Linked DNA regions of Homo sapiens. The protein of the gene in region 2 purifies or fractionates together with the protein of the main gene of each other region. This does not show direct contact. Each region holds a gene or a part of one and is shown on either strand. Other genes may lie near its edges.

Region 1 (4,327 bases), on a different chromosome or scaffold from region 2:
AGTATCATAAATGACTTTATTAAAATCATTCTAGAACTTAAACCACTTAATACTGTGCTTATTAACAATGAAAGACATTCCAATGATTAATGTCTATTTTGGACATCTTTTGAAATTGCTATCAGAATTTCTACTATATTACCTTTTTTCCATGGTGTAGAGTAAGCAGAGGGCTAATTAAATTTCTGAAGCAACTTAAAATTTGGAGCAAAATGAGATAAGAACATAGATTTGGGGTTGGAAATAAGGTATCGTTATAAAGTTGTGTGTCTAAGGTGAGAGTTCTCAACTTTGGAGGTAATTGTAGAGTGCTGGGGAGAGGAGGACCATAAACTTTGATTAGAAAATAGTTTTATTTTTATTTTCACTAACCTCTATTAAAAATAACATTTCCTTTCATTATGAATGAAGACAACACTCCACCATCATATTAGCAATAAACGTGACTCTGACTTAGCAGTATCATCTTTGTAAATATCAGATATTTTCATACCACATTCCACTTGCTGCAGAGAACTCAAAATATAGTTTGTGTTCATCACTGCATTGAAACTAATAGCCCCCGGTAGATCTTAATAGAGAAGCACATATTACTTTATCACAAATCTTGTTTTAAACATTTTGATAACTATTTCAATTTAATTGGTTTCCTTTATAATCCTATGTATTTTATGCATTTAACAACAAACTATGTTGAGAAAGAGCCCATAGGCCTCACCAGACTGCCAAAGGGTACGATTACACAAAAAAGTTTAGAACTTTTTCCAAAAGCAGAGTTCCAAAAAAAATTAGTGCAATGGCAGGTTCATTGAGATAAATGTGCCCCCTCTCCCCATTACTACTATGAGGATATTTATGGGGATATAAAATGCTTGGATATTATTTCACTTTCTAGTCTGTGACCTTGGTCAATTACTTATACTCTGTGACTCAGCCTCTAGCTATATAATGGGTATAAATAGACAACAGTAACTTCCTCATAGGGTTTTTGTGAAGATTATTTCATTCAAGGTTGTTTAGAACAAAGACAAGCACATGGTAGTGCTCACTAATTAGCAGCTATTATTCATATCACATCTTGTATGTGAAAACAATTTGTACTTTAGAAATTCCCCCATACCATTATTTATTATTTTTTTGGAAGGCACCAGCCAAATGGCTCCTATCCAGTGAAAATTATGGAGGGCTGACCAACTGAGAATATTGAATGTGGGTCACCATAGCTTTTCTAAGATGGACAGTTTTTTAAATGGCAGTAATCATATAGGCCAGAGGGTAGGTAAAGAGAGGGAGCACAGCCCTGGAGTTAAATCCAGGTTTCCTCTGACTCTGAAGTGTATAAATTGTGATTAAAGGTATCTCTTACATCTTTTGTCTCATCTGTAAAACAAGAATAACTTCCTCTCAGAGCTGTCACAATTAAATGGGATGCAGATTAAAACAGGTGCATAGACACAGGTACATAGAATGAACTATGCAAATATTAGCAGCCTTCCATTTCTGCCTTCCTGTCTTCACTTCTATTACCAACTCTCTGGACCTTTGTACTTCACTCCACTATTCTTCTGGATTTAGTTAAGGATTCATAGTAAATTGCAATTTTAAAAAACCGAAAAACTTCTAATGGACATCCTTCTTCTGCTTTACAGAGGGAATTACCCAACTTGGCCATATAAGAGAGGAGCCACCTGCAGTGCCTGCCCCAATAATGACAAGTGTTTGGACAATCTCTGTGGTGAGTAAAAGGAACAATACACCAATAGAATAACATAATAGTAACATGTAACTTTCTACAGAATTAACAATGAAACCATGTTTTATCTTAACGGCTATCTTCAAGGAAACTGGCATCAAGTAGCAATTAAACCAATGGCTTACTGTTCTAGGAATACATTTAAGAGAAATTTAAATGTGAAAATCACGTTCTTTTTATTTAGTTCTAATTGGTCAAACAACAACAACAAAAAAAACTGTCAGAAACTGTAGACTAAGATTCCTAAGATTTGCTTATTTCAGCAAGATCAAAAATAAGTATAACAGGTCATCCAAACAAACAGAATTCTGTTTTCGTTTTTTTTTTTGTTTTTTTTTTTTGAGACAGAGTCTTGCTCTGTCACCCATGCTAGAGTGCAGTGGTGTGATCTCAGCTCACTGCAACCTCCATCTCACGGGTTCAGGCGATCCTCCTGCCTCAGCCTCCCAAGTAGCTGAGATTACCATGCCACCATGCCCAGCCTGGCCAACATGGCAAAAACCCCCTCTACTAAAAATACAAAAACTAGCTGGGTGTGGTGGTGGACGCCCGTAACCCCAGCTACTCAGGAGGCTGAGGCAGGACAATCACTTGAGCCCAGGAGGTGGAGGTTGCAGTGAGCAGAGATTGTACCACTGCACTCCAGCCTGGGTGACACAGTGAGGGTCTATCTCCAAAAAATGAAAATAAAATAAAGCTGCAACATGGCACTTTTTATTAGCCAGACAGCATTTAATGAAGAAGTGTAGAAGCTGCAAGCAGTTAAATTTCCAAGGATGTTTTACTAAACATCCAAGCAAAATTCTGCTTTGTGATTTTGAAATATTAGTAAGTGACCAAGAGTTTATTTCTTGTTCTTGTTCTAGACACAAACCCTTCCATCCCAGTATGTTTTTTTACCATGGTGTGAAGGGGAAACTTCAATTAAGCTGTGCAAAGCCTGTGGTACTTTCGTGTCCATATTTGTAACAAACTGAACTCAGAGCAGCCGGGCTAGAGTAGGGTGCTTAGAATAGAGGAAGGACAGAGTCGGCCAAGTTCCACTGCACGAAATTTAGTTTGGAAAAAAGTGTTCCATTGCTCATGTTTTATAAGGTCCCTTGCAGGCCTAAAATTATAAAATTCTATATATTAAACTGCTTGCTCTCCTCCTTCCCATTTAATGTTGAATACTTATCTTTACATACAGTCGTACTTTTGCAAAGTTTTCTGAGCCATTTTTCTCCCAGTCCAATCATTCTTTATTTCACTTATATCACTCTTGTGAAGAAAAGTAACATGTAGCCACAATGCAGATAATATCAAGGTATCAATGTATTCACTGAATTCTTCCTTTCACTCACTCTTCACTTCAGAACGTATATATTTCTTCCTTCCAAATTAACCAGTATACATAAGGGCTAAAACTATGGATTTCAGAACCAGTATGCCAAGTTTTGGTGCAATTTCCAGTTTGACCACTGTGACTTTGGGCAAGTTTCTGCTTCTATTTTTTTCAACGAAACAACCCAGTGAAAAAAATGTTTCCCTTTAAAAATCTAGGCAATTAGTAACACTACCACCACCACAATGACAAAAATACTTCTGGTTTTAGCTTTTGATCTTTGGTGATCTAACTTGAGATGCTCTTTAATCTTGGGGAATAACATTTAGAAGATTAAAGCTGTAGTCCAATAATGAAAACCCTTGGACTCTTGAGAAAACACATGCTAACTTGTATTTATAAGATGTGAAACTCATTACCCATTTACTTCAGATAAGTGCTCAACATCTTACAGATTGATCTTGTCACTAATTTCCTATTCTCAGAGCTAGATTTATGTAATTTGTTTTCATGTAAGTTTAGGCTTACTTGAAAGTATTCTACTCTTCGCACTAATACTGAATAAGTAAGATTTGTGACTAAAAAACTTAAGAATCACCATTTGACCTTTTATAAGGTCTGATGAAGGTAAAGGTTAGAGGATAAAAGCTTTTATTTAACAGATTCCTTCTCAGACAAATTATGGCAAGCACTGGAGCATAAATTCCTTCGTGGTATTCCTTCGTGGTCTCCTAGATACTGCTGGTAGTTCAATAAATACCCTTGGAGGCCAAATCAGGACTGTTTTACAAAATGTGCTGGGCATATTAGTGGTACATAAGATGATTTTAGCTAGTTCACAGATGTACATTTGTTTCAATAGTTGAATATTGAACATTTAAAAATATATATAAAAAAAAATAACTAGAACATCACACTCTTGATTTCATCGACATAACTGCCAAGAAAAGTGAGGGTAGCATATTTACAGTAATTCACCACAAAGCCCACTCACAGGTATGAAGACCAGGGATGCTCACCAGTACCCAGAGGACCAGATGATTGATGGGTTCTACCACGAGCATCTAATAGCGACTGCTGCAGAACTGGTGTGGAAAAGGTTTCTATTTTATAAAAGAAAGTATCCAGAAGGCTAAAGGCAGTTGTGGAATTTATTTCTTCCCAGTGCTCTGATTGTCAAAATTTGAATAAAGCTCAGTGAAAGGAGGACAGTAATTAATGACTTGATAGCCAAACATCGTAATGATGAT
Region 2 (3,500 bases):
ACACCCAGGGCCAAAAGGTCCTATGGCAGGCTCCAAGGCCTAACCCTCCCCCATCGAGTCCCAAGCCTGACCAGGTCTTCCCCATCCTGGCCACTCTCATTCAGTCACTCAACACATACCACCTAACAGGTGCCAGACACTGTGCTTGGCCCTTGAAACATTTTCCCCTCCCAGTCTCATGCTCTCCACGATAACTCCAGAGACTTGTGCAGGAACATCTCACTATTTCCAGAGAGCCAAATCCATGGGGGGAAAAACTGACCTGCAGTCACTGGAAATGGGCTAAGAGAATGGGAAACCAACTCCAGTCATTTCCAGTGTCATTTTCTCCTGAAGGAGGAGGAAGGCTTGAAGGAAGGGGAGGACATGGCAAGGGCACAAGAGATGTGATCAACATCTGTAAGTTCAAAGTGAATAAAGAATTCCAGAATAAGGATGCCACCTAGCATCTCAAAAAAGGTCAATGTAAATGAAGAAGCCTCCTAGTATCTCAAAAGAGGTCAATGTAAGAAAAATAAAAAGATTGGTTGGGCACGGTGGCTCATGCCTGTAATCCCAGCACTTTGGGAGGCCGAGGCGGGCAGATCATGAGGTCAGGAGTTCGAGACCAGCCTGGCCAACATGGTGAAACCCCATCTCTAGTAATGATAGAAAAAAATTAGCGGGGCGTGGTGGTGCGCACCTGTAATCCCAGCTACTCTGGAAGCTGAGGCAGGGGAATCACTTGAACCTGGGAGGTGGAGGTTGCAGTGAGCCGACATCGCGCCACTGCACTCCAGCCTGGGTGACAGGGCGAGACTCTGTCTAAAAAAACAAAAAGAAAAAAAAAGAAAGGGGAAAAAAACCCTTCATCACCCTAAAAAATAAAAATAAATTAAAAAAAAAAAAAAAAGAACACAAGAGACCCAAGGGATAAGAAACAGCTCCCTGAGGGGAAGCCAAGACCCAAGCAGAAAATAATCAGCACCCCAGGCCAAGCACTAGGACCAAGCCAGAAATGTTCATATGCTTCCCACAGAGAATGCTCTGCTCTCATTGAGGAAAGAAGGAACAAGCACTTTCTCTAACCTTTAGATGTGCAGAAGACGTTTTTAGGATTTAGGTTCCATATGGCACCCACAAATGTCAGCAGATGCCTATAACAGTGGATGCAGCACTTCGTGATCATTACAATGAAGAGAGGTTCAAAATAATGGAGGCACAAGTAGAGAATCCTCCCAGGAGGGTTCTTCTAAAGTTCATTAAGGCTGCACACCAGGATCCCTATTCTAAAGGTCAGGGCAGGTCTCAAGTATCAGGAATAAAATGGGGTAGGAGCTGAGAGACACAATACTGGACTGAAAGCACAACAGCCACCAAGTGTGCAGACTCACGTCAGCCCTCATCTCTAAGCCATCAGCCCAGGGAGAATAAAGCAAAGACTAATACTTGCAGAATTCCCTAAGTTGCACAGTGTGTTGGAAGACTTATATCTGAAGAAAAGGAGGGACTCCAAGAACATAGTGGTAAAATGATTGGCAGCTAACATGCATATGATTAATTAGCCCATGAATGCCCTCTCTCTCCATTGCCCTCTCCTTCCACTAACGTGCATCATACAGAAACCCAGAGAAACCCTTCAGGCTGCCCTTACAGTAGATTATGTCATCTTTTTAACTCCAGAGCCTTGCACCTAGCATACAGCATTGTACACAAGAAATGGATTTAAACTGTATTTACCAGATTTTACTTACATCACATCTTAGGGTAATCAGAATCAAAAAAACTATGAGAGGTGCTCTAGGTACACCCACCAGGAATACTGCCCACTTCCTTCAAGAGAGGCAAGGACCTAGAAAGGAGGCCTGCCATCTTGTGAATATCCCAAGCTCTACAGTTAGACTTCCCAGATGCCCCAGATAGTGATGTGGATCCCAGGAGCAGCAGGGAGGTAGCTGGTCACCTCCCAGACCAAAGATTAGGCCAGAGCCACCCAACTCTTAAGGCCATTGCTCCAGAGGCTGAGAGGGTGTCACATACCATGTGCTCCATGCAGATACTGATCTCGCCATCGCTGTAGAACGCACCATAGAAGCCCACGATGTACGGAGAGTTGCACTCATGCAGAACCTGCAGCTCCCTTATGATCTGGTTCCGGATTGCGGGTTTGATCTCCAGATGAATTAGCTGGAGAAAGGTGGAAGAAAGAGAGGTTTTATGAAAGAAAGAGGGAGGAAGGGATGAAAGATATAGTCTTGTTAAATGTTTAAGCTCTTTAAGGTAGAGGGAGGAGAAACAGGTTAAGTTGTTACAAACAAGTTTCTGCTCAACCAAGAAATGAGTGTCATTGTACTAAGGCAGGCATTGGCACTGGAGGCTGTTCCAGCTGTGCCTCGGCTCCTGGGAGCCTAGACAGGAACAAAGTTAAGGGAGGGCTTACTCCAAGAGAGGCTTTGGAGCTCAGATATGAAAAGAAATTGACCTTGAGGACTTGGTTCACACTCAAGAGTTGTGAAAGTAGAAGGGTATGAGGAACTCAGGTATGCTAACCTAGGCTGCCCAAAAGATTCTTCCTTGAGCTCAGGAGCCTGATGTGGTTGAGACTAAGCCAAAGTCTAAGGTGCTACCTTATGTCATCCTAACATTTTCCCTTGTTCCAGCTGGGGAGACAAGTGACAGTCACATTAAATAGTTACGTAGTAAGGTTGAACTTCTAAAAAAATCCCACAGACAGCGAGTGTCAGAGAACATGGATGCAGTGGTTACCAGTGTGGGCTGGGGCACCTGGTAAAAGCTAGACAAGAGGTGGACCTAGAAAATGGGCACTGTTTGAAAAGACAGAAGCAACAGCACACAAAAAAATTATGGGCACAGGAGTGAACACCATGTGCAAAAAAACATTGAAGAGCCCAACCTCTCTGGAGCAAGGGGCTGTATTCCAAAAGAGGACCAAGGGTAGATAGGAAAGGGAAGTCCAGCTCTACAAGTACATGCTATGATAGGAGTTCAGATGCTATAATGCAGGAAGATAAAGGGGATTCACTGGCAGGGCTGGAGCACAAGAGGGAAACAACTTGAAATCCTTGTTTTGTGCATCGCTGGGGCTGGGTGAATGAAAGCAGCTTCTCCAGCACTTGATAAGTAATAAACAGGTATCCTGGCATTCCTTCCACAGCACACAGAAGGCTAAAAAAGAGTCACTTATTATTTTCCAGATGGGATGGGGATTAATACACTAACACAGTCATTAGTGTGTTTATCCATAATCTAATATAGATAACAAGCATTCAAAATTCAAACAGCACGGCTGGGCACAGTGGCTCACACCTGTAATCCCAGCACTTTGTGGGGCTGAGGCGGGCGTATCACCTGAGGTCAGGAGTTCGAGATCAGCTTGACCAACATGGAGAAACCCTGTCTCTACTAAAAATACAAAAAAATTAGCCATGCATGGTGGCGCATGCCTGTAATCCCAGCTACTCAGGAGGCTGAGGCAGGAGAATCGTTTGAACCCAGGAGAT
Region 3 (4,327 bases), on a different chromosome or scaffold from region 2:
GGAGGCAGAGGTTGCAGTAAGCGCGCATCACTGCACTCCAGCCTGGGAAACCGAGAGAGACTCTGTCTCAAAAAAACAAAAAAAACAAAAAAAAAAACAGGCCAGGCGCGGTGGGTCACGCCTGTAATCCCAGCACTTTGGGAGGCCGAGGTGAGCAGATCATGAGGTCAAGAGATCGAGACCATCCTGGCCGACAGGGTGAAACCCTGTCTCTACTAAAAAAAATACAAAAAATTAGCCAGGCGTGGTGGCGGGCGCCTGTAGTCCCAGCTACTCAGGAGGCTGAGGCAGGAGTATGCTGTGAACCTGGGAAGCAGAGCTTGCAGTGAGCCAAGATTGCGCCACCGCACTCCAGCCTGGGCGACAGAGAGAGACTCTGTCTCAAAATAATAATAATAATAATAAAAATAAAAAAATAAAACATATAACTGTTTTCCTAGCTCTCAGTTACTTGCAAAATGCACAATCAAACATTATATTCCCAGTGCTCAGAGCAGAGGTGGCACATAGTTGGGCCCAGTAAATATTTTTTGACCACATTAATTTAGTACATAAGACACCAGAAAAAATTCTCAAAATTTAAATATAATAAACCCTGGTTTCCAAAAATGGTAAAGTTATTTTAAAATACTTTTTAAAAAGATTTGTCACCTAGAATATTACTTTGTATTTATCACTAATTAAAATATTAACAGTGAAAACAAATAGTAACAGAAAACAGGAGAAACATTTACAATTAACAGGAAAACTACCACACAATAATACAACAAAAACATTTACAATATTTAACAAAAAAATTGATACCCAGAACAGGTAAAGAATTCTCAAAAAAAAAATTAAAAAGAAAAAGAACGAAGAATCAATAGAAAAACGGGGAAAAGATAGATACAGACAATTCACATATGGGTAAACCTGACTGGCCAAAAAACATGAAAATAGGCACAACTTCAATAGCAATCAGAAAGGTACAAAGTAAAACAACAGAGGTATTTTTTTGCCCATCAGATTGGCAAAACTAATTAGGCAACCCTAATGCTCAGGCTTAGCAAGGGTGGGGAAATGAACACTCTCACAGCAATTCCTGGAGGTATCAATCAGCAAAGCCATTCTGCAGGGCAACTTGGCAGCTTCCGTTTGTACTTAATATAGGTGTGCCCCTGCCGACCTAGCAGTTTCACTTCTTGATAGCTACACCAGCGAAACCCTTCCACACATGCTTCAGCAAGCATATAGAGCAGGGGTATCCAATCTTTTGGCTTCCCTGGGCCACATGGAAGAATTGTCTTGGGCCACAGATAAAATACACTAACACTGGCTGGGAGCAGTGGCTCACGCCTGTAATCCCAGCACTTTGGGAGTCCGAGGCGGGCGGATCACGAGGTCAGGAGATCGAGACCATCCTGGCTAACATGGTGAAACCCCGTCTCTACTAAAAATACAAAAAAAAAATTAGCCGGGCGTGGTGGTGGGCACCTGTAGTCCTAGCTACTTGGGAGGCTGAGGCAGGAGAATGGCGTTAACGTGGGAGGCGGAGTTTGGAGCTTGCAGTGAGCCGAGACTGTGCCACTGCACTCCAGCCTGGGTGACAGTGCAAGACCCGTCTCAAAAAATAAATAAATAAATAAATAATAAAAATAAATTTAAAAAAATACACTAACACTAACGATAGCTGATGAGCTAAAAAAAAAAAATCGCAAAAAAATTCTTAAATGTTTAAACAAAGTTTACAAATTTGTGTTAGGCTGCATTCAAAGCCGTCCTGGGCCGCATGTGGCCCACAGGCTGCAGGTTGGACAAACTTGATATACAGGGATGTGCATTAGAGTAAGGTTTTCAACAGAAAAAAAACAAAAAACAAAAAACAGAATGAATCATTAATTAAAAAGTGACTCCAGGCCGGGAGCAGTGGCTCACGCCTGTAATCCCAGCACTTTGGGAGGCCGAGGCAGGCAGATCACCTGAGGTCAGGAGTTTGAGACCAGCCTGGCCAACATGGTGAAACCCCATCTCTACTAAAAATACAAAAATTAGCCAGGCGCGGTGGCAGGTGCCTGTAATGCCAGCTACTTGGGAGGCTGAGGCAAGAGAATCGCTTGAACCTAGGAGGTGGAGGTTGCGGTGAGCCGAGATCATGCCACTGTACTCCAGCCTGAGCAAAAAGAGTGAAACTCTGTCTCAAAAAAAAAAAAAAAAAAAAAAAAAAAAAGAATGACTTCACTATGGTACAGCCACACTATGAGATATTATGGAACAATTAAAAAGAAGGAAGTCAGTATGTGTGGTATGTGTGTAAGGACAAGGAAAGATCTCCAAGAGAAAGTATTAAGTGTAAGAAGAAAGCTAGATCATAACAAGTGTAATATGAACCCTTTATGTTAAAAAATAGAAAAGACTCACCCAAAAGGAGAACTATAAATTTCTATGGGTACGTGTATATGTAAGTAAATAGGAAAGATCTGGGAAGATACACATCAAAGTGATAACAATGGCTAAATCTTAGGAGGAAGTAGGTGTGGAGGGGGATGGTCAAGGAGATTTGAAACTTTAAATTTCTTACAAGAATATATTCATATATTTTGGTCAGTTGTGGTGGCGCATTCCTGTAATCCCAGCTACTTGGGAGGCTGAGGCAGGAGAATCACTTGAACCCAGGAGGCAGCGGTTGCCATGAGCCGAGATGGCGTCACTGCACTCCGGCCTGGGCAACAGAACAAGACTCTGTCCCCCCAAAAAAAAATATATATATTCATATGTTCCTAATTAAATTCAAAATAATGTTATTGTTACTAGAAAAAGAAGGGAGAGACTGGGTGTGGTGCCTCACACCTATAATCCCAGCACTCTGGGAGTCTGAGACAGGAGAATCACTTGAGCCAGGAGTTGGAGACCAGACTGAGCAACAAAGTGAAAACTCATCTTTACAAAAAATTAAATTAAATTAAATTAAAATTAAATAAAGAAAGAAGGGATAGAAGAGAGTCTGCAAGTGGCGGTGTTGCATGGGAGTACTGGACTAGGAGAGGAAGCTAAATGATCAGATTGGAATGACAGAGAGAAGTGTAGCACCACTGGGGGCAGAAGTGAGCACCAACCCAGAAGGAGAGAGGCTCGGGGGGCTGTCAGGGAAAAGGAGAGAGCCAGACTAGGCAGAGGGAACCAGAGGAAGGTGCAGATAGAAGCTCACCATCGAGTCAGGGAGTCCTGGATGGCGTTGGTGAGTGCATGGCCCAGGTGCAGGGAGCCTGTCACATTGGGGGGTGGGATGCACATCATGAAGACACCTCGGGGATTTGCTGCTGACACATTAGGACGCTGATGGTGGAGAAGGATGGCACATGTTTAAGGCCTCAGGTCACCTCTCCCAGCCCCTCCCAGGCAACACATCCTTCAGTCCTGCCCTTCCCCACCCCACCCACTCTGGGCCTGGGCAGCAGTGCCTACTCACCCCATACTCTGGCTTGAAGAAGCCCTGCTGCTCCCACCAAGGGTACCAGGCAGCCTCCACATACCGAGGGCTGTAGGAGTCGGGCATGGGGCCACTGACATCTGGGGGAGAGGAAGGGAGGGCTCAGTGCCGTGGCTGGGAGCACTCTGGGAAGGAGACGTGCTGGCAGAGAGGGATCGGGATCTCCGTCACTCACATCATAGGACAGGCATTTGAGGGGCCTAGAGGCAGGGCAGGGGGTCTGCAATTCCTCACCAAACAAAGTGGTGAGAGCAAGAATAGAGCAAGATAGGGTGAAAACTTAGAAGGGGCTGCTGAGGGGTGAGCCCCTTCCCACTCCTAGTACCTTTCTTTTCCCCGGGTGGGGTTGGGAGGTCATAGGTAATGACCCCAGGATCCCGTTTCTCCCTCTTCTCTGGTTTTGGTTTCTTCTGCTTGGGAGGGAGAAGACATAGGCCCAGGCATCAGCCAACCCATCACCGCACACATCAACTTTCCTTCCAGCTCCACCCTCGCCTCACCTCCCCTGGAGGTGGCTGCTGCTGTTGGATCTTCTGCTTCTGTTGGAATTTCTCTAGCTTCTCCCGTTTCTTTGCCTCTTTCTTGAGCTGAGCAGCTGTCTTTGGGAGGGCAGGAGCCTCGGGGCCTAGAGAGAGGTGCAGAAATTCAGACTCAGCCAGCTGGGGACCCTCTTGGACGGCCATACTAGGTTTCAGATGGGGTATTTTAGATGCCCGAGGTCTTGCCCATGCTGACCTCCCCCCTCTCCCTCCTCTCCCGCAGGACCCTGCCCCAGTGATTCTGCCATTTCTAGGAAAAAAAGAAAGTGAGTTGCATGGAAGGCCCCAGGGAAGCCCCTATCCTCCAACTCCTCGCCCTTCC
Region 4 (4,327 bases), on a different chromosome or scaffold from region 2:
TACCCAGATAAAAGTGAGGATGTTATTTCCAGTAGAAGCCCAGGTGTGAGGCCCTGGGATGCCTCTATGAGGTGCAGTTTGATAACCACTCAAAAAAACATTCCATGGCTATCCAACCCTTGACTTCAGCAGAGCTGAGATTTGATGCAGGCAAATTTGAGATGTTCTTGGCCTGCAAAGTCTGAGTGTGGTGAGTGGTGGACAGGAGAGGTGTCAGTGGATGGCGGACACCGTGGTCCAGGGGCTGTGGGAGTTGGAATGGAGCGGTTCTCAGGCAGGGAAAGGCAGGGTGGAATGGCCTCAGGACAAGCACATGGTAGGGGAGGGGGCTCTCCAACGAGTCTCTCCACCCGGGCCCACTCTAGGCAGCTCACTGCTCTGGTCCCAGAGGGTCCTTGTCCCCCAAGCAGAAATTGGGCTCCTGGGCCTATGCCCCCGCCCATCCAGATAAGTAGATGGAAGGGGGAGGGTTTGACCGCCCCAACTGGGGCCACGGGATTCAAGGGACAACTTCCAAAAGAACAGGGGATTTCTGCACAGACAACAAAATAAATGGCCAATTGAGCAGTGTTTTCAAGCTTTTTTTAATTAGGTGTCACAATAAGAAAGAAATTTTAAATTACATCCTGTATATAAAGTCACACAGCTACACCAGAAGTTTTTTGTTGTGTTGTTGTTTTGTTTTCTTTTGTTTGAGACAGGCTTTCACTCTTTCACCTAGGCTGGAGTGTAGTGGTGTGATCTCGGCTCACTGCAGCCTTGACCTCCTGGGCTCAAGTGATCCTCCCACCTCAGCCTCAGCTGGGACTACAGGCACATCCCACCATGCCCAGCTAATTTTTGTAATTTTTTTGTAGAAATGAGGTTTGACATGTTGCCCAGGGCGGTCTCAAACTCCTGGGCTCAAGCAGTCCACTTGCCTCAGCCTCCCAAAGTGCTGGGATTACAGGCGTGAGCCACCTCACCTGGCCCCAGAAGTTTTATAAACCAGTATCTAACTCTACCACACACAAAACACTGTTTGTCTTTAATTTCTTTTTCTTTTTTTTTTTTTTTTTTGAGACAGATCTCAAAAAAAAATCCAGTCTGTTGCCCAGGCTGGATTGCAGTGGCGTGATCTCAGCTCATTGCAACTTCCGCCTCCCAGGGTCCAACGATTCTCCTGCCTCAGCCTCCCAAGTAGCTGAAGCAGTCGTGCACCACCACACCCAACTAATTTTTGTATTTTTAGTAGAGACGGGATTTCCCCATGTTGGCCAGACTGGTCTCGAACTAATGACCTCGTGATCCATCCGCCTCGGCCTCCCAAAGTGCTGGGATTACAGGCATGAGCCACCGCGCCCAGCCTTGTCTTTTATTTCATTCTGGGATACAGGGGTGTCCCCAGAGTCTTAGTGCAGTTTTAATAAATAACTTCAGATGTTTAAATGTACAAACCTACAAAACATCAGTTGAATATTTACTTATTTAAATTTCTTTTCCACTTAGTTTCCTGACAGTCAAGTGCTAGATTTTTTCATTTTAATTCTCCGCATGTGCTAGTGTCTGGAGGGACAGGCAGGCAAAGGACCCCTTTCCTGGGCTGAATTGACCTCCCTTGAGGTCACGTGTGCACAAAATCCAGTTCTTTGGAACCTGGTGAAGCTGGAATCACCAGTGCAATCTTTTCCCGTCACTGACCAACAGTCGATAAAAGGTTTTTCGAAGTTTGAACAACTAGAGCCATGTATAGCACTAGAGGGGGTACTGTAAGAATCTGAGTGAGAGATATCAAGGTATTTTAAATGTAAATAACCTTTCAAATGTCATTTTTTGGTACATTTGTAGTATCTATACTTCTGAAGTTATTAAAGCCTCAAACTTCACCAAGACTTTGGTCGCCCATTTTTTTTTTTTTTTAACAATACTAGTAAGGCCTTCTCATTTGCTTTCCTGACCCATCAATGGGTCATGACCACAGCTTTTTAAAAATCAGACTTCCAGGCCGGGCGCGGTGGCCCACACCTGTAATCCCAGCAGTTTGGGAGGCCGAGACGGGCGGATCACCTGAGGTCGGGAGTTCGAGACCAGCCTGACCAACATGGAGAAACCCCATCTCTACTAAAAATACAAAATTAGCCAGGTGTGGTGGCACATGCCCATAGTCCCAGCTACTCGGGAGGCTGAGGCAGGAGAGTCGCTTGAACCTGGGAGGTGGAGGCTGCAGTGAGGCAAGATCGTACCATTGCACTCCAACCTGGGCAACAAGAGTGAAACTGTCTCAAAAAAAAAAAAAGAAAAAATCAGACTTCCAAAGTCAAGTACAATTTTTTTTTTCTTTTGGTGACAGGGTCTTACTCTTGCCCAGGCTGGAATGCAGTGGCACCCCCATGGCTTACTACAGCCTCAACCTCTTGGGCTCAAGCGACGCACCTGCCTCGGCCTCCCAATGTGCTGTGATTACAGGTGTGAGCCACTGTGCCTGGCCCAGAATCTAAATGTGTACCAGCCTCTCTGTGCTCAGGAGGGCTTGGGCACGTCAGCTGATACTGGGTCCTTTGGGGATACGGATCTGCCCTGGCTCATGGACTCCTCGCCCTGGAGTGCAATTATTTGTTTGTCTTTCCTACTGGACCACGAGCTCCGTAAGGCAGGGACTGTGCTCATTGTTGCTGTTGTTTTTCATTTAATCTTTGTGTCCTTTGCACATAATAGGAGAACTGGCCTCCTGTCTATTCTTGATATTGGGCTTAGTTCCGGGGCCGTGCCCTGAATAGGTCAGTGACTGTTTGCCTGTCATTAAAGAGAGACATCAACCATGAGAAAAACCAACTGTTTTTCTGTCCATGCACACAACACTCCACAGAACCCTTCACTTCTGATACCAAATATGCAGCCAGCCCCACCCCTGCAACCAACACCTTCTCCAGCCACCCAGACACCAAGTGGGTGTCCTCCCGTTCAACTCTGACATTAACTGCCTGGAATCAGTGCAGACCCCACAGGTTAGGGCCCAGTCCCACAGACTGCCCCCTACTTCAGGGGCCAATCACAAGTATCAGGTCCCCTCGTTCCCCACACTTTGGTCCTACTTGCCTACAAATCAAGGGTTCCATGAACCCCTCCTCAAGTTGAGTAATTTGCTACAGCGTCTTACGGAGCTCAGGGAAGCACTTATGTTAACTGGTTTATTAGAAAGGAAGTGATAAAGGCTACAGATGAACAGCCAGATGGAGGTACCTAAGTAGAGTAAGGTCCAGTAGGGTCCTGAATGCAGGAGCTTCCGTCCCCATGGAGTTGGGGTACGCTACCCCCTGCGCACGGGAATGCATTCAGCAGCCTGGAAGCTCTCCAAACCCTATCGGGATGTTGACGGAGGCCTCATCACATAGGCGTCATCGATTCTTAACTCAATCTCCAGCTCCTCTCCAGTCTCTGGAGGAAGCTGGGGGGTGGTGGGGCTGAAAGTTCCAAGCTCCTCATTGCAGCTTGATCTCTCTGGTGATCAGCCCACCCAGGAGTTACCTCATTAGAACAAAAGACACTCCTGTCACCCGGGAAATTCCAACGGACTTAGGAGCTCTGTGCCAGGGACTGGGATCAAAACCAAATGTTAGAACAAAACATGCTGCTAGCACCCCTGTAACTTAGGAAATTCAAGGGACTTAGGAGCTCAGTGTCAGGGCTGGGCATGGTGGCATGCACCTGTGATCCCAGCTATTCCAGAGGCTGAGGCAGGAGGATCGCTTGAGCCCTGGAGGTCAAGACTGCAGTGAGCCGTGATTGCACCACTGCACTCCAGTCTGGGCAACAGAGCAAGATCCTGTCTCAAAAAACAAACAAAATAAAAACTGTGTCAAGAACTGGGGGCCGAAACCAAATATATATATATTTAGGATGTTACATTCTTTCTACTTTTTTTTTTCCAAGTGATCCTTCTGCCTCAGCCTTCTAAGTAGGTGGGATCACAGGTGCGTGCCACCATGCACAGCTAATTTTTAAATTTTCAGTAGAGGCGAGGTGTGCACTATGTTGCCAGGCTGGTCTTGAACTTCTGGGCTCAAGCAGCCCTCCCACCTCAGCCTCCCAAAGTGCTGAGATTGCAGGCATGAGCCACCACACCTGGCCTCTTACTTTTTTTTTCTTTTTTAGAATATATAAGAAAATAAATAAAGAAAAAATGGGGTCTTTGGATCTGACTGTCCAAAGACACCATTAGCATTTAAAAAATATATTTAGTCATTCATGCATATTAATGGAAAGTCCAAATTATACTGAACTCTATAAGACGGAAAGGAAAAGCTGCCCCCCAAGCTCCTTTCCCAAGAGGTAGCCACTGCTGACAGTT
Region 5 (4,327 bases), on a different chromosome or scaffold from region 2:
ACTTAGGAAGTTCCTTTTTCCAGCGGAGACCGATTAAGTAATGGCATTTATTCATCTATCTAACAGACATTCATAAACACAGTAAGTGCAAGGTGAGTCTATCACAGCCCTTGCAAAGTCGCACCACACACCCAGAAGTGGGTCTGCAATGCTGACTCACACTGCTTTCGGATGAATCCCTGGTTGTACATCGCCTCCAGGAACACAAAGTCACTGAAGATGGAGCGCTCCAACACAACACCTTGTCCTGTTTAAACATAGGCAAACAGAAATTGAAAATCAGACAGATAGCAAAGCACTGTCAACTGATCACTGCATTCCAGAGAAAAGAAAATAACAATCATTTACAATTCCATTTCCACACCAAAATACTGAAAAGAACATAGACATATTTGTAAGTGGGAAACCATTTTCAAAAACTGAAGTATCTTTTCAGTTTTGAGCAATATAACATCGTTTCATTAAGTCAGCTATAACAGAAAGCATCCGGTTAATACAAAAAGTGCTTGTTTTTAAATAACGTATTCCACCCCTACAGTGCCCACCCCCATCCTGCTCCTGCCCCCACCATTCCAGTCAGATCTACTGATGTTGGGCTACTTCTCAACCTCACCTCTGTCCACTCCCAGCCTCACTGGCTGTGTTACTATCACAGCAGCCCCGACGGACACTTGTGCAGCTCAGAGCACTAGTCCCCAGGGTCCCCAGCCAGCCTCCTTGCAGTCAGCCCTGCTGTGTCTGGGCAGAGGCCTCCCCTAATCTTCCTACCCAGCCTCTCCCCACAGCCTCCTTCCTCAGAGCAGCCACCACTCACTTGGGGCAAGACATTCCTGTTTCCACATCGAGTCTTCATCCCTCTACTAAAACACAGGCTTCCCTCCCTGTGGCGCCCTTAGCTCCCAGAATGGGTCTGGCACACAGCAGACATGCACTAAATATTTAATGAATACGTTAACCCAGTTCCAATTTGCCCCAAGAATACTGAGATGGGAGCAAGCTGCACTTTTTTTTTCTAAATGGGAAATAGGTTACTATAGCACCAAAAAAAGCAAGGCTTTATTTAACAAGTAAAATGTTTCTTTTTCATTTTAAGAAATGAGTAGTCAGAAGACAGGGTTGAAGAATGCTTTAAAAAGAACGTGGAGGCCGGGCGCGGTGGCTCACGCCTGTAATCCCAGCACTTTGGGAGGCCGAGGCGGGCGGATCACGAGGTCAGGAGATCGAGACCATCCCGGCTAAAACGGTGAAACCCCGTCTCTACTAAAAATACAAAAAAATTAGCCGGGCGTAGTGGCGGGCGCCTGTAGTCCCAGCTACTTGGGAGGCTGAGGCAGGAGAATGGCATGAACCCGGGAGGCGGAGCTTGCAGTGAGCCGAGATCCCGCCACTGCACTCCAGCCTGGGCGACAGAGCGAGACTCCGTCTCAAAAAAAAAAAAAAAAAAAAAAAAAAAAAAAGAACGTGGAGTAAGCCTGGATGTCAGTGTGAAGTCCACGCTACGACATCAGCTCCTGGATTGGCTCCTGGTAAAGAACCTCAAACCAGAAACAGCAGACCACATTGTTTTCTTAGGAGTAACACTAACCAAGATCAGGGTTTACGTTCATATAAGAAAAAAAGAAGCACTAATAAAATGTTTTCAACTTTTTCAAAGCAAGACAATAACTCCACCACCGTACAACTGTGTAGATACGTGTCATGGACACACACTGCATCCGTGGAGACCTGAAGGAGCATAGGCAGCGGCTCCTAGCTCAGCTCTGAGAAGAAGCCTGTGAGCCGGCCACTCCCAGTGAAAACCACATTCTTGTTCTCACGGCTCAGACCCCATGAAGCCAACCCTAGTGGCGGCTGAGCTTGTGCGTGAGAAGCTCATCAGGGGCACTGCCAATCAACGAAAGCAGCAAGCACTGCAATATAAAACAGACACGAAGGCCCTAAGAGTCCACCCATCTCCCTCTCTCCGCACACAGATGTGCCATTTGCTGCTACCTGTGAACTGAGGACCGCCGTGGCATGGTAGCTTTGACCAAAAATTGGCAGTGCATCTGCGGTCCAACTCTCAGGATGTCTAGCATGCACTGCTGTTTCCCAGAATGATTACAGTAACCCGTCGCTGGACCCTAACCTCATTCTGCACACAAGTAGTCCATGTTCATGCCCTTTCATCCACCTTCCCTTCCTCTCCTAACTATACTTTCTGATCCCTGTTTCCGTCTCCCAGGCTCCCCAGTACACAGCTCTTCCTTTCTGCTTTGGATACCTTCAAGGGAAGCATCCTCCCCTACTGCACTGGCCTATGGGACCCTGTGTGTTCTGCCTCCCCCCGTCATCTTATCAAGATTCACGTCTGCCTCGTGGCTTTATGGTGATTCCGGCCTATCTCTGGGCCCTCCGGGACAACCCTATGTTGTTGGCATCCACATCTCTGTCTGCATGGCACATGCACAGTCTTCATAAGTGTGATCCCGTTTCCTCCTGGACACTTCTGTGCTCTCTTTACCCCTTTGTTTTGACACATTTCATATATAAATGAATATGTAAGTATAGAAGCTTAAAGTAGTGCCTTGAGAATTCTATACAATCCATAAATCTCACTCCAGTATCCATAGTGAAACAGCATTAAATTAATTCTGAAGCAAAAATAACACAATCTCAAGAAATTCATGATCTTGTTGGAAAGACAGAACTCACCTCATCAAACACCCTTAAAGGAAAGCTCGACTCAGTGGCAATTTAACGTGGTTGAATTCTAGAATAGTGTTCAAGTACAGAACAGATCTAACTGCCCAGAAATACTGCACCTGTGGTCAGCAAGTGCTCCAAGGCATCTGAGTACTGCAGCAGGCGACTGCTGTACAACCAGGACTGCAGGCGGTAACTGTTGCCATCATTGCTTCTCGGATCATCGTAAAATTTCTCCAAACTACAGTTGCCATTATAGTCGGTGGCGAGGGGCTTCCCATCTCCTGTGGTACTGTCTGGATAATGAATCCCCGCTTCAGGAAAGTGCTTGAAGCCTGAAAAGAGAAACAGTCGGATGCAGTCTGATGCACATCACTCACTCCCCGCAGGGAGCAGTGGGGACTAGCCAAAACACACAGCCCGCCCGAATCTCACCGCCAGGGATGGAGCCAATGACCTAGAGAAAGTCACCTACATGCCTGGGTTTCATCACGTATGAAGGGAACACACAACATATACAAGCAAGCATGTGAGCGAAAGAGCTTGCACAGTGCCCTTATCCAGGTTCCTCCTGAAAGGACTGCTCCCTGTAACCACAGGAGCCCCCTCTAGCGGGCAGCTGCTGTCATGCAGGTGCTACAGAAAGGTACAATGGACACTCAGCTGCACCAGGAGTCAGGAAGGGGCTCTAACCTTGGCTTTGGGACCCAGCTATGTGGCATCTGCTCACTCAGGAGTACACCCATCTGTGAGTGAGTACCATCCTCGGCTCTATTTCAGAGGCTGTCACAAAGTTCAAACACGACAGTTTATGTGGAAGTGCCCTGCTTACACTGCCCACATAAAATTCCAATTCAAATTGACAACCAGCATGGATTTTCACAAATTTTCCAAACATAAAAGATTAAAAACAGCTTTTTCTTGTTTCGTTTTATAAAACAGCTTTTTCAATAAACAAAAATGTGAAATACCCACCTTAGGCCCAATTATTAAATATTTAATATTATTTAATATTAATATTGAAGAAAAACCAGTGAAATAAGCAACCATATATCTGAGAAAAAGGTATCATTCTGTGTAACATAAAATCATACCTAGTTTCTCTGCTATTTCTTTTGCAAGTTTGCCTTTTCCAGTACATATATTGCCATCTACAGTTATCACTCTGCTGCGTTCTGTCAGTCTTTTGCTTGCTTTATCCCCAAGTAGGAAATGCCACATTCCATAGCGCAGTTTGCACTGCACACTGCTATGAATTCCTCTCTGAAAAACACAAAATCACACAGCAGCACATTGTGACCACTCTGGTTCCTGTAGGCATTAGTAACTATTAGGTAAAAATACCAAGAAACCTCTTAGTGATAAAAATGCCAACATCTACATCTTTATTGCCTATTAATTTGTTTAATTATCTGTCTATCCCCCACCACTCTGTCCATGTAAGTTTCGTTAAAGGCAGATATACTGTCTGTTTGTTCACTGCTAAATCCTCAGGCCCTGGAACAATGCCTGAAATTTTTATTAAATATGTTTACTATGTTCAATAAAAATTGGAGGGAGGGAGGGAGGGGTGGATGGATGGATGGATGGACGGACAGACGGGAGGAAGAAAGACAGGGATGGAGGGAAGCTCAGGAGTGAA
Region 6 (4,327 bases), on a different chromosome or scaffold from region 2:
GAGAAGCAAACGAAGTATCCTCAAAAGCTCCTAAACAGAAGACAATTTATCATTAGCAAATTTATCTTTTTTTTTAAAAAAGTATTGCTACAGTTGCCTAAATCTATTTTGCTTAGAAAAGCTTCCCGCAGTAAGAAAAGGCTAAACCTTAATTATTCATATGTGATAATATCAAGAAAAAGACCCTATATCTTTCAAGTTTCTCCACTGTTAACGGCTGTGTGAGTTATAGTCCAGAGACCATACTATAACAAAACAAGGGGTAGAGAGGAGGTATAACCAAGGAATTTATATAAAATAAAAATACCAAAACAAGGAAAATAATGAGAGTCCAGAGATAAATGAAATGTTTAAGAAATCTGATATAAAAGTGAAAACATTGAGCATTAATAAAAACTGAGTGTGAAGTCAATAATAAAAAAAAAACCTGTTAATCTCACTCCAACAAGACACAGAAGAGTCAGATACAGCCACAGAATGTTAGGCTGAGCCTACGTATCAAGTAATACAGTGGTGGTTCAGCAGAAGGCATCAAAATCACCTGGGGGTTCCCCATACTCCACATGCCCAGGGTGTAAACCAATCACTCTTGACCTTGGCATTGCTGACATCTGGGCTGAATAATTCTTTGCTGTGAAACACTATCCTGTGCCTTATAAGATATTATGCAGTGTTTCTGACCTCTACTCACCAGATCCCAGCAGACTGCTCCTAGCTCTGAGAACCAAAAATGTCTCCTAGGCTTAGGATGACCAATCTTCTCAGTAGGCTAGGGACAGAGGAGATTCTTGGGATTCAGAACTTTCAGTGCTAAAACTGTTAAAGTTCTGGGCAAACCAGGAAGAGTTACTCTTCTTACTCGGGGGGCGAATTTCCCTGCTCGAGAGCTACTACCAAAACGTTTGCAATTTGGATTAAGCAGGTCTAGGGTTGGGCCTCAACATTTTAACAAACCAACCAACCCAAACCAAATAAACAACTCAAGTAACTCCTAGACATATCTGGTTAGGAGCAGTGAATTCTAGCCTAAACTCAACTTTATAAAGGAACAAAGGCCAAAGGAGGTTAACCTCGTACAGGGCCAATCATTTTCCTATTACAACATAGAATGAGACTCAGAAAAGGACAAACCAAGGAATCCTAGAAGCTGCTAGTGTGCATATAAAATATTTGGTGTCAGGAATGAACAAAAGGAAAAAAACAGGGAACAAAAAGAACTAAAACACCACAAAATAGAAGATAAAGAGAAAAAGCAGCAGAAAGATATAAAAAAAGTTTCTTGTTGATAGTTACTTTTTTCAGGTAAACTGAAAGTCACAACTGAACCTTCAAACCTATAATCCTCTAAGAGAGGCACATTTTAAAGAAGTTACCTCTAGAAAACTTCCTGGACGTTACCTGTCAGTCCCAGGGGCAGACTGGGCACCTCACTCTCATCTTCATCATTATCTGGCTTCTCCACATTATTTTCTGTTTCTTTAGTAGTCTCGGCACTTTCTTCTTCAGATTTCCCTTTGTTTTCAGTTTTTGCTTTTTTCGTATCTTTGGTTTTAAAAGACAAAATCCGAAAAAATTTTTCCTTAAAATAGAATTCCAAATGAGATCAACAAACAGAAGATCTCTGATATAAAGACGTATATTTTCAAAAGCTAAGTATATGCTGTATTAATTTGTTAAGAATTCTGTTTGGTGAAAAATGAGTGGTTGTATTTAAAAACCCAGGGTACAGACAGACTTGGTGACAAAACCTTTTAGGCTTTTGTTCAACTAAACAGTATAAACATACCAATTATAAGTTTCACATACTCCACTGAGGGGAAAGGAAGCATACCTGATTAACATAATCCTTAAAAACTCATTATAAGTAGTCATTTTTCTTCCCACGCCAATCACTATCAAAGGCTCTTCATGTTACTAGAGATAGACTGTAAAGGAAGGGCAACAACCCACTTGCCTGGCTGACATACACTGGACTGTGCCTTGGCTATCAGGGATGAGGGTGGGAGGAAAGGCAGGGCTTCTTCCCACCCTCATTTCTACATTCACAACTTTCATGTGGCCCCAACTACCTTTTCAGTCCTACCTCTCACTTCTCTTTTCAATGTTCGACTCTGGGTCAAATGGATTAACCACATGCTGTGTTTATATAAAACTATATGGCAATTAGTGATGTTTGAAAAGAACTTAGACCACAACCCAGGACTCTCTGTAGCTCAGTACTGGTCTCCTCCCTGTACCTGACGGCCACCCTTCCAGGAAAGAGTCAACTTTGTAGGACCTACATGTTCAAAAGCCACAGATATCTTCAGCTGGTCTCCATGGCTTATTTTGTTTTCCCTGGAATAGTTCCTAAAATGTACCCATAAGGTGGTTGGGTGTGGTGGCTTCTGCCTGTAATCCCAGCACTTTGGGAAGCCGAGGTGGGAGGATCACTTGAGCCCAGGAGTTCAAGACCAGCTTGGACAACACAGTGAGACCCCATCTCATAATAAAACAAACAAACAAACAAACAAACAAAAAACCCATAAGGTTAAAACGCCCAGCATTGTGATTCAATGCTTGGGAGCAGAAATAATACCACTTCCTGGGGCATACTCAAAACAAGAATTGTGAAGGCAATAATTTTAGAACAGGATTACAATGACTTCTGTGTGTAGGCATCATGAAGACAGTAATGCATGTTTGGAAAAGTTCAAAGTCCCTTTCTAAATAAAACCCTTATTTCAGGTAAAATACATGAATAGGATGTTCCAACTCAGGGGCTGGCAAACTTTCCGCAAAGGGCCAGATAGTAAATAGTTTAGGCTTTGCAGGTCATATGATCTCTGTTGCCATAAACACAACCAAATAGGCATTGCTATGACCCAGTAAAACTTTATTTACAAAAACAGGTAGAAGGAGGGATAGTTTGCTGACCCCTATCTTATCCTACCTTGATATCTCTGCTTATACAAATCTCAATTATAATGTCCATTCTTTCATCCGAGCTTACTGAAATTCCATCATCTTCAAAAAACATTCCTTCCTTTTCCTCCTGCCATTCTTAGCACTTGGAAATTAATGTTCCATTTATTCAGAAGTTTCCTACTTTATATACTTTGTAACTAATATTCCTTTCAAAGGGAGGAATTTATGGAAGGAAAATGGGAAGAATCAAGCAGGAAAAAAGGTAACTTAAAAAGAAGAGAAAATTTCTAGAATTCTAAGGAGAGTCTTTTCTGAGAGAGGTTTTCTTCAAGGTTAGTGAAATTAAAAATATATTCCTCAATATTTTGAGAAAAGTTGAAATGGACTCCCCGCTTCTGCCAATAAAATGTTTCCATTAGCTACCAGGCTAATCTCTAACATACTGGTGAGTACAGGGAATTCTCATGTCATGTGCACACAATAGTAATAGAAAGAGGAACAATAACCGTCTGTGAAAAACTAAATGGCTGAAGTTCAAAGATAATAAATACCTACCAGGCTCAGCATCATTCACCATTTTTCTCTTTTTCTTCTTTTTCTTTTTTGATTCTGAATTGGAAGACTGCATTGCTGCTTCTCCATTGGTTAATACAGTGGATTTCTGGGGAGACTTTGTAACTTTTATATTTCCCACTGCTTCTTGAGACATGCCTCCATTTTGAGTTTCTGATAAGCCCACATTCATGGGCTTTTGTTTTGATTTTTTAACCTTTCTACTTCCCATTGTTTCTTCAGATACATCTCCATTTTGAGTTTCCGATAGGGTCAGATTTGAGGCCCCTGTTTAAATAAACAGAACATATACTGTGACAAAGAAGGAGAAGTTTACTTAGAAACACTGAAATCCCAAATGAGAACTTCCATGGCTTCCTGACACAAATTATTTAGATTTTCTTCTCTTTCATGTAATTAAAACAACTTATAGTTTTATGGTGTTCCCTTATAGGGAAAGTAAGTTATCTTAAAGAAAAAATACTGGAAAAGGGAAAGCTATATTGATTTCTTAACTGCAAAAGACCGTACATCTGACTTTAAGGAGTCTAGGACAGGAAAACTTCAATGAGGTCAAATATTTAAACAGATGAGGTCAGATAATGGCAGTTACAGAATAAACATAAGTATTTGATAAACATATGATTAACTGATATATTGAAAAAGACATTTACAACTCATTCACACAAGTACTATTTTTCATACCACTTCAAAACATTCAACCCCAACTCTTCTAGACTGCAGTGAGTTGAAAATTCAGTTGATAAGACCACTTATTTGCTCCAATATTTATCATATGCAAATACAGTAATGCGTGCACAATGACATTTCTGTGAATTAAGGACAACATATACAGTGGCTCCATAAG
Region 7 (3,798 bases), on a different chromosome or scaffold from region 2:
ATGAAGCCACAGAAGAAAGACCCCTCATCCCACTGCACCCCACATCCCTATGGAAGTCTTTTTTTTTTTTTTTTGTCTTATTTCTGAGACGGAGTCTCGCTCTGTTGCCCAGGCTGGAGTACAGTGGTGCAATCTTGGCTCACCGCAACCTCCACCTCCCAGGCTCAAGCGATTCTCCTGCCTCAGTCTCCCAAGTAGCTGGGACTACAGGCATGCCATATGCCCGGCTAATTTTTGTATTTTTAATAGAGATGGGCTTTCACCATGTTGGCCAGGCTGGTCTCAAACTCCTGACCTCAGGTGATCCGCCCGCCTCAGCCTCCCAAAGTGCTGGGATTACAGGCGTGAGCCACCGCGCCCGGCCCCCTATGGAAGTCTTTACCCAAGAGACAGTGTCCAACCCCACCTGAGGCCCCCTGTCACCCCACATACCCGCCCCCTCCCGGCACCCCTGCTTACATCTCCCTCCCCCTCCCCCCTTACCCATGGGGGCCTCACCCAGTGAGCCCCGGAAAGGGCACTGGGCAGGCCCCGTCCCCCAAGGGTCCTCACCCAGCAGGCCGCGGGCTGGGCTTCGTGCCAGGGCTGAGTCGTCACAGCAACCCGAGCGAGGCCGGGTGGCCCTCCGCCCGCCCCGACCTGGACCCCCGGACCCCGCAGCCCGGGGCCGCAGCACCTTATCGAGGTCGTCCATCAGCTTCAGCTGGGCCCGGCGCTCGTACTCCTGCCGCGTGAAGTCCCCCTTCCGGGGGCCCACCTCCTCCTCGGCTGGAGCCCGGGCAGCAGGGGCTGGAGTCGCCATCGGGACTGCGGACACAAGCGGGGCTGGGCCCGGGGCCTCCTCTTGGGCCAGCCTGCAGATCACAGGGAATCGGCATCAGAACCGCTCACGGGGTCCGCGGTGGCAGACAGGCCAAGGAGCGGGCGTCCCGGGCAGGCCCGGCCTCACCTCGCGGCCTCCTCCCTCCGCTGTTCCTTCTCCACCTCCTGCCACTGCTTGCGCCGCCGCGCCTCCTCTGCTCGCCGCTGCTGCCGCTCCAGCAGGCTGGCCCGCTTTTGGGCCATCTCGTCCTCAGGCTTGTCTTCATCCTGGGGACAGACGCCGAGTCCAGCCAGCCACCCCCTCCCCCAACATGGCTGGAGGCCCATCTTCCCTCCACCCAGCCTGCCCGCCACCCACCTGTGCTTTTGTTTTCATCATTGTTCTAAATGCACTTAGTTGGTGCCTACTGTATGCACAGCCCCACACTAAGTACTGGGACACAACAGGGATGGGATACACTGGGTGCCGCTCACACACACACTGCTTAACCCAACGGGGAAGACAAAAGCAGCAGACAGCAGTGAGTGCCAGCAAAAGCTCGTGTTGGGCACAGACACTCTACACTGCGGGAGGACCCCGGCCTGGCCTGGAGACACCCAGGAAGGCTTCCCAGAGGAAGTACCCTGTAGAATGATCAGGATTTAACTAGGTGGGCGTACAGAGCAGAGCGTTCCAGGCAGAGGGGACAGCTAGTGCCGAGGCCCTGAGGCTGGAGCAAACCTACTGGGGGGCACGGAAGTACAAGGGGGCCAGTGTGGCTGGGACACAGAGCTGAGGACAGTGGCGCAGGACTAAGTCAGAAGTGAGTACAGGCCAGACGCGGTGGCTCACACCTGTAATCCCAGCAGTTTGGGAGGCCAAGGCAGGTGGATCACTTGAGGTCAGGGGTTCGAGACCAGCCTGGAGAAACCCTGTCTCTACTAAAAATGCAAAAATCAGCTGGGCGTGGTGGCATGCTCTTGTAGTCCCAGCTACTCAGGAGGGTGAGACAAGAGAATCACTTAAACCCAGGAGGTGGAGGTTGCAGTGAACCGAGATCATGCCACTGCACTCCAGCCTGGGCCACAGAGCGAGACTCTGTCTCAAAAAACAAAAAACAAAAGAAAACAAAACAAAAAAAAAAAATGAAAAGGAAGTCCTCCCCAGGGCTTTGGGCTGTGCTCACTTTTTTTTTTTTTTTTTTTTTTTTGAGATGGAGTCTCGCTCTGTTGCCCAGGCTGGAGTGCAGTGGCACGATCTAGGCCCACTGCAAGCTCCACCTCCTGGGTTCACGCCATTCTCCTGCCTCAGCCTCCTGAGTAGCTGGGACTACATGCGCCCGCCACCACGCCAGCTAATTTTTTGTATTTTTAGTAGAGACGGAGTTTCACCATGTTAGCCAGGATGGTCTCGATCTCCTGACCTCATGATCCGCCTGCCTTGGCCTCCCAAAGTGCTGGGATTACAGGCATGAGCCACTGCGCCCGGCCACCCTGGGGAGGACTTTCATTCTAAAAGCAAGGGTAAGGGGAGCAGTCAAAATCCCCGACCACTCAGTGCAAAATGGCCCGGGATGGAGGCAGGCAGCAGAGGCCAGTCAGGTAACCCTAGGTGTCCCCGGCTGGGAAAGCCATGGGAATGGAGAGACAGTGGACACAGGGCAGGGCCAGGAAAGGGGTGGTAGGAGCGTGCTGGGGGCGAGGGGGTGAAGGAGAGGATGAGCAAGGAGGTGCGCTGAAGATCCTGGTCCTGTCCGTCTATCTGTCCATCACCCACCCACCCATGCAACCAGCCATTCATCCATCTGTCTATCCATGACTCCTCCCTGTTTCTCCACCCCTCCCCACATCTATCTATCCCCCTTGTCCGGCCACCCATACCTTGTTTGGGAGGGACATGACTGGGTCAGCCCCCACTGGAAACCCCTCACCCCCAAACATACCCGAGGGCCTCACTCATTAAGCCACAGGGGGAGGACCTCTCACCCCACTGCACCCCCACAGCCCCTTGTGGAAGTCCTTACCCAACAGACAGGGTCAAATCCCATCTGAGGCCCCTGTCACCCCACATACCTGCCCCCCACCGTGCAAATGTCCCTTTCCCCCCTCTCCCACCCATGGAGGCCTTACCCAGCCACTCACACCTGTTCTGTCCATTCATACCTGGCTCCCCATCTATCCCCCACCCGCCCACCCATCCTTCAGTAAAGCCCTATTCATCCAATAGTGGGTTTGTCCACCTCCCCCCGCCCCCACCCGCCCCCGCCCCAGGCCCAGGACCCTCCAGCCACCTGCTCGGGGACTCACCTTGTAGAAGAACCCCAGCCCCACCCGGGGCTCCCCCTCCGAAGACGCCTCCTCCTCCAAGGAATCCTCAGCACCAGCGGGGCTCCCGTCTCCCTCGTCCTCGGCGGCGGGATCTGCCAGGCTGCCCAGCGGGATCTCGATGAGGCCCGGCCGGGCGGCTGGCTCCTCGGGGGGCGTCTCCTCCGCCAGGAGGATGGAAGAGCGCGTCTGCACGGGCACCTGGCTCGGCGAGAACTTGCGCAGGTGGGGGAGGCTGTCTACGTCGTGGGGTGGCGTAAGCACCCTGGTCAAGGGTGCCAGCCGCAGCTCCGCTGGCCGCGTGTGTTTCGGGCTGCGGGGTGACTGGCTGGGCCCGGGCCCAGGGCTGCGCCGGGTGGCCGGGACTCGCCGGGCGGGGCTGGGGGATGCAGCTTTGGGCCCCGTCGTGGGGCCAGGGATGACCCACGCAGCAGGTGGTGGGGCGGATCCGGGGGCCTCGGGCGGGGCCAGGAGCCGCTGCTGCTGGTCCGTGAGCCTCTGCATGTCCCGCTGCAGCGAGCTCAAGGCGGCACTCAGCTTGCTGACCGCTCGATTGTATTCCCCCAGCCCCTCGTGGGGCACCGGGCCCAGGTCTGGCGAGAAGGTCACTGCCTTGGGCCGTGAGGTTGGCTCACCCTGGCCCTCGCCTGCGGGCCGCTCCCCACCAGGGAC

What was found.
Region 1: the proteins of MAP2K1 (region 2) and KRR1 purify together in Homo sapiens (affinity purification with mass spectrometry; one large-scale study listed by BioGRID and IntAct). This does not show direct contact.
Region 3: the proteins of MAP2K1 (region 2) and VARS1 purify together in Homo sapiens (affinity purification with mass spectrometry; one large-scale study listed by BioGRID and IntAct). This does not show direct contact.
Region 4: the proteins of MAP2K1 (region 2) and MXRA7 purify together in Homo sapiens (affinity purification with mass spectrometry; one large-scale study listed by BioGRID and IntAct). This does not show direct contact.
Region 5: the proteins of MAP2K1 (region 2) and NDUFA10 purify together in Homo sapiens (affinity purification with mass spectrometry; one large-scale study listed by BioGRID and IntAct). This does not show direct contact.
Region 6: the proteins of MAP2K1 (region 2) and DDX18 purify together in Homo sapiens (affinity purification with mass spectrometry; one large-scale study listed by BioGRID and IntAct). This does not show direct contact.
Region 7: the proteins of MAP2K1 (region 2) and CAMSAP3 purify together in Homo sapiens (affinity purification with mass spectrometry; one large-scale study listed by BioGRID and IntAct). This does not show direct contact.

The regions. Positions count from the first base shown.
Region 1 is NC_000012.12:75,493,928-75,498,254, forward strand, and holds part of KRR1 (KRR1 small subunit processome component homolog), read right to left. Parts: 3' UTR 1,736-4,327; coding exon of another isoform or gene 1,650-1,735; 3' UTR 1-1,649. Other genes in the region: GLIPR1 (glioma pathogenesis-related protein 1 precursor), read left to right, coding at 1,650-1,735. UniProt on the Homo sapiens protein: Part of the small subunit (SSU) processome, first precursor of the small eukaryotic ribosomal subunit.
Region 2 is NC_000015.10:66,435,412-66,438,911, reverse strand, and holds part of MAP2K1 (dual specificity mitogen-activated protein kinase kinase 1), read right to left. Parts: intron 2,167-3,500; coding exon 2,020-2,166; intron 1-2,019. UniProt on the Homo sapiens protein: Dual specificity protein kinase which acts as an essential component of the MAP kinase signal transduction pathway.
Region 3 is NC_000006.12:31,788,426-31,792,752, forward strand, and holds part of VARS1 (valine--tRNA ligase), read right to left. Parts: intron 4,092-4,327; coding exon 3,967-4,091; intron 3,880-3,966; coding exon of another isoform or gene 3,877-3,879; coding exon 3,792-3,876; intron 3,547-3,791; coding exon 3,446-3,546; intron 3,313-3,445; coding exon 3,185-3,312; intron 1-3,184. UniProt on the Homo sapiens protein: Catalyzes the attachment of valine to tRNA(Val).
Region 4 is NC_000017.11:76,690,208-76,694,534, reverse strand, and holds part of MXRA7 (matrix-remodeling-associated protein 7), read left to right. Parts: intron 1-4,327.
Region 5 is NC_000002.12:240,018,393-240,022,719, forward strand, and holds part of NDUFA10 (NADH dehydrogenase [ubiquinone] 1 alpha subcomplex subunit 10, mitochondrial isoform 1 precursor), read right to left. Parts: intron 3,949-4,327; coding exon 3,780-3,948; intron 3,021-3,779; coding exon 2,805-3,020; intron 248-2,804; coding exon 161-247; intron 1-160. UniProt on the Homo sapiens protein: Accessory subunit of the mitochondrial membrane respiratory chain NADH dehydrogenase (Complex I), that is believed not to be involved in catalysis. Complex I functions in the transfer of electrons from NADH to the respiratory chain.
Region 6 is NC_000002.12:117,816,864-117,821,190, reverse strand, and holds part of DDX18 (ATP-dependent RNA helicase DDX18), read right to left. Parts: intron 3,748-4,327; coding exon 3,463-3,747; intron 1,543-3,462; coding exon 1,399-1,542; intron 31-1,398; coding exon 1-30. UniProt on the Homo sapiens protein: ATP-dependent RNA helicase that plays a role in the regulation of R-loop homeostasis in both endogenous R-loop-prone regions and at sites of DNA damage.
Region 7 is NC_000019.10:7,612,474-7,616,271, reverse strand, and holds part of CAMSAP3 (calmodulin-regulated spectrin-associated protein 3), read right to left. Parts: coding exon 3,109-3,798; intron 1,090-3,108; coding exon 950-1,089; intron 855-949; coding exon 553-854; intron 1-552. UniProt on the Homo sapiens protein: Key microtubule-organizing protein that specifically binds the minus-end of non-centrosomal microtubules and regulates their dynamics and organization.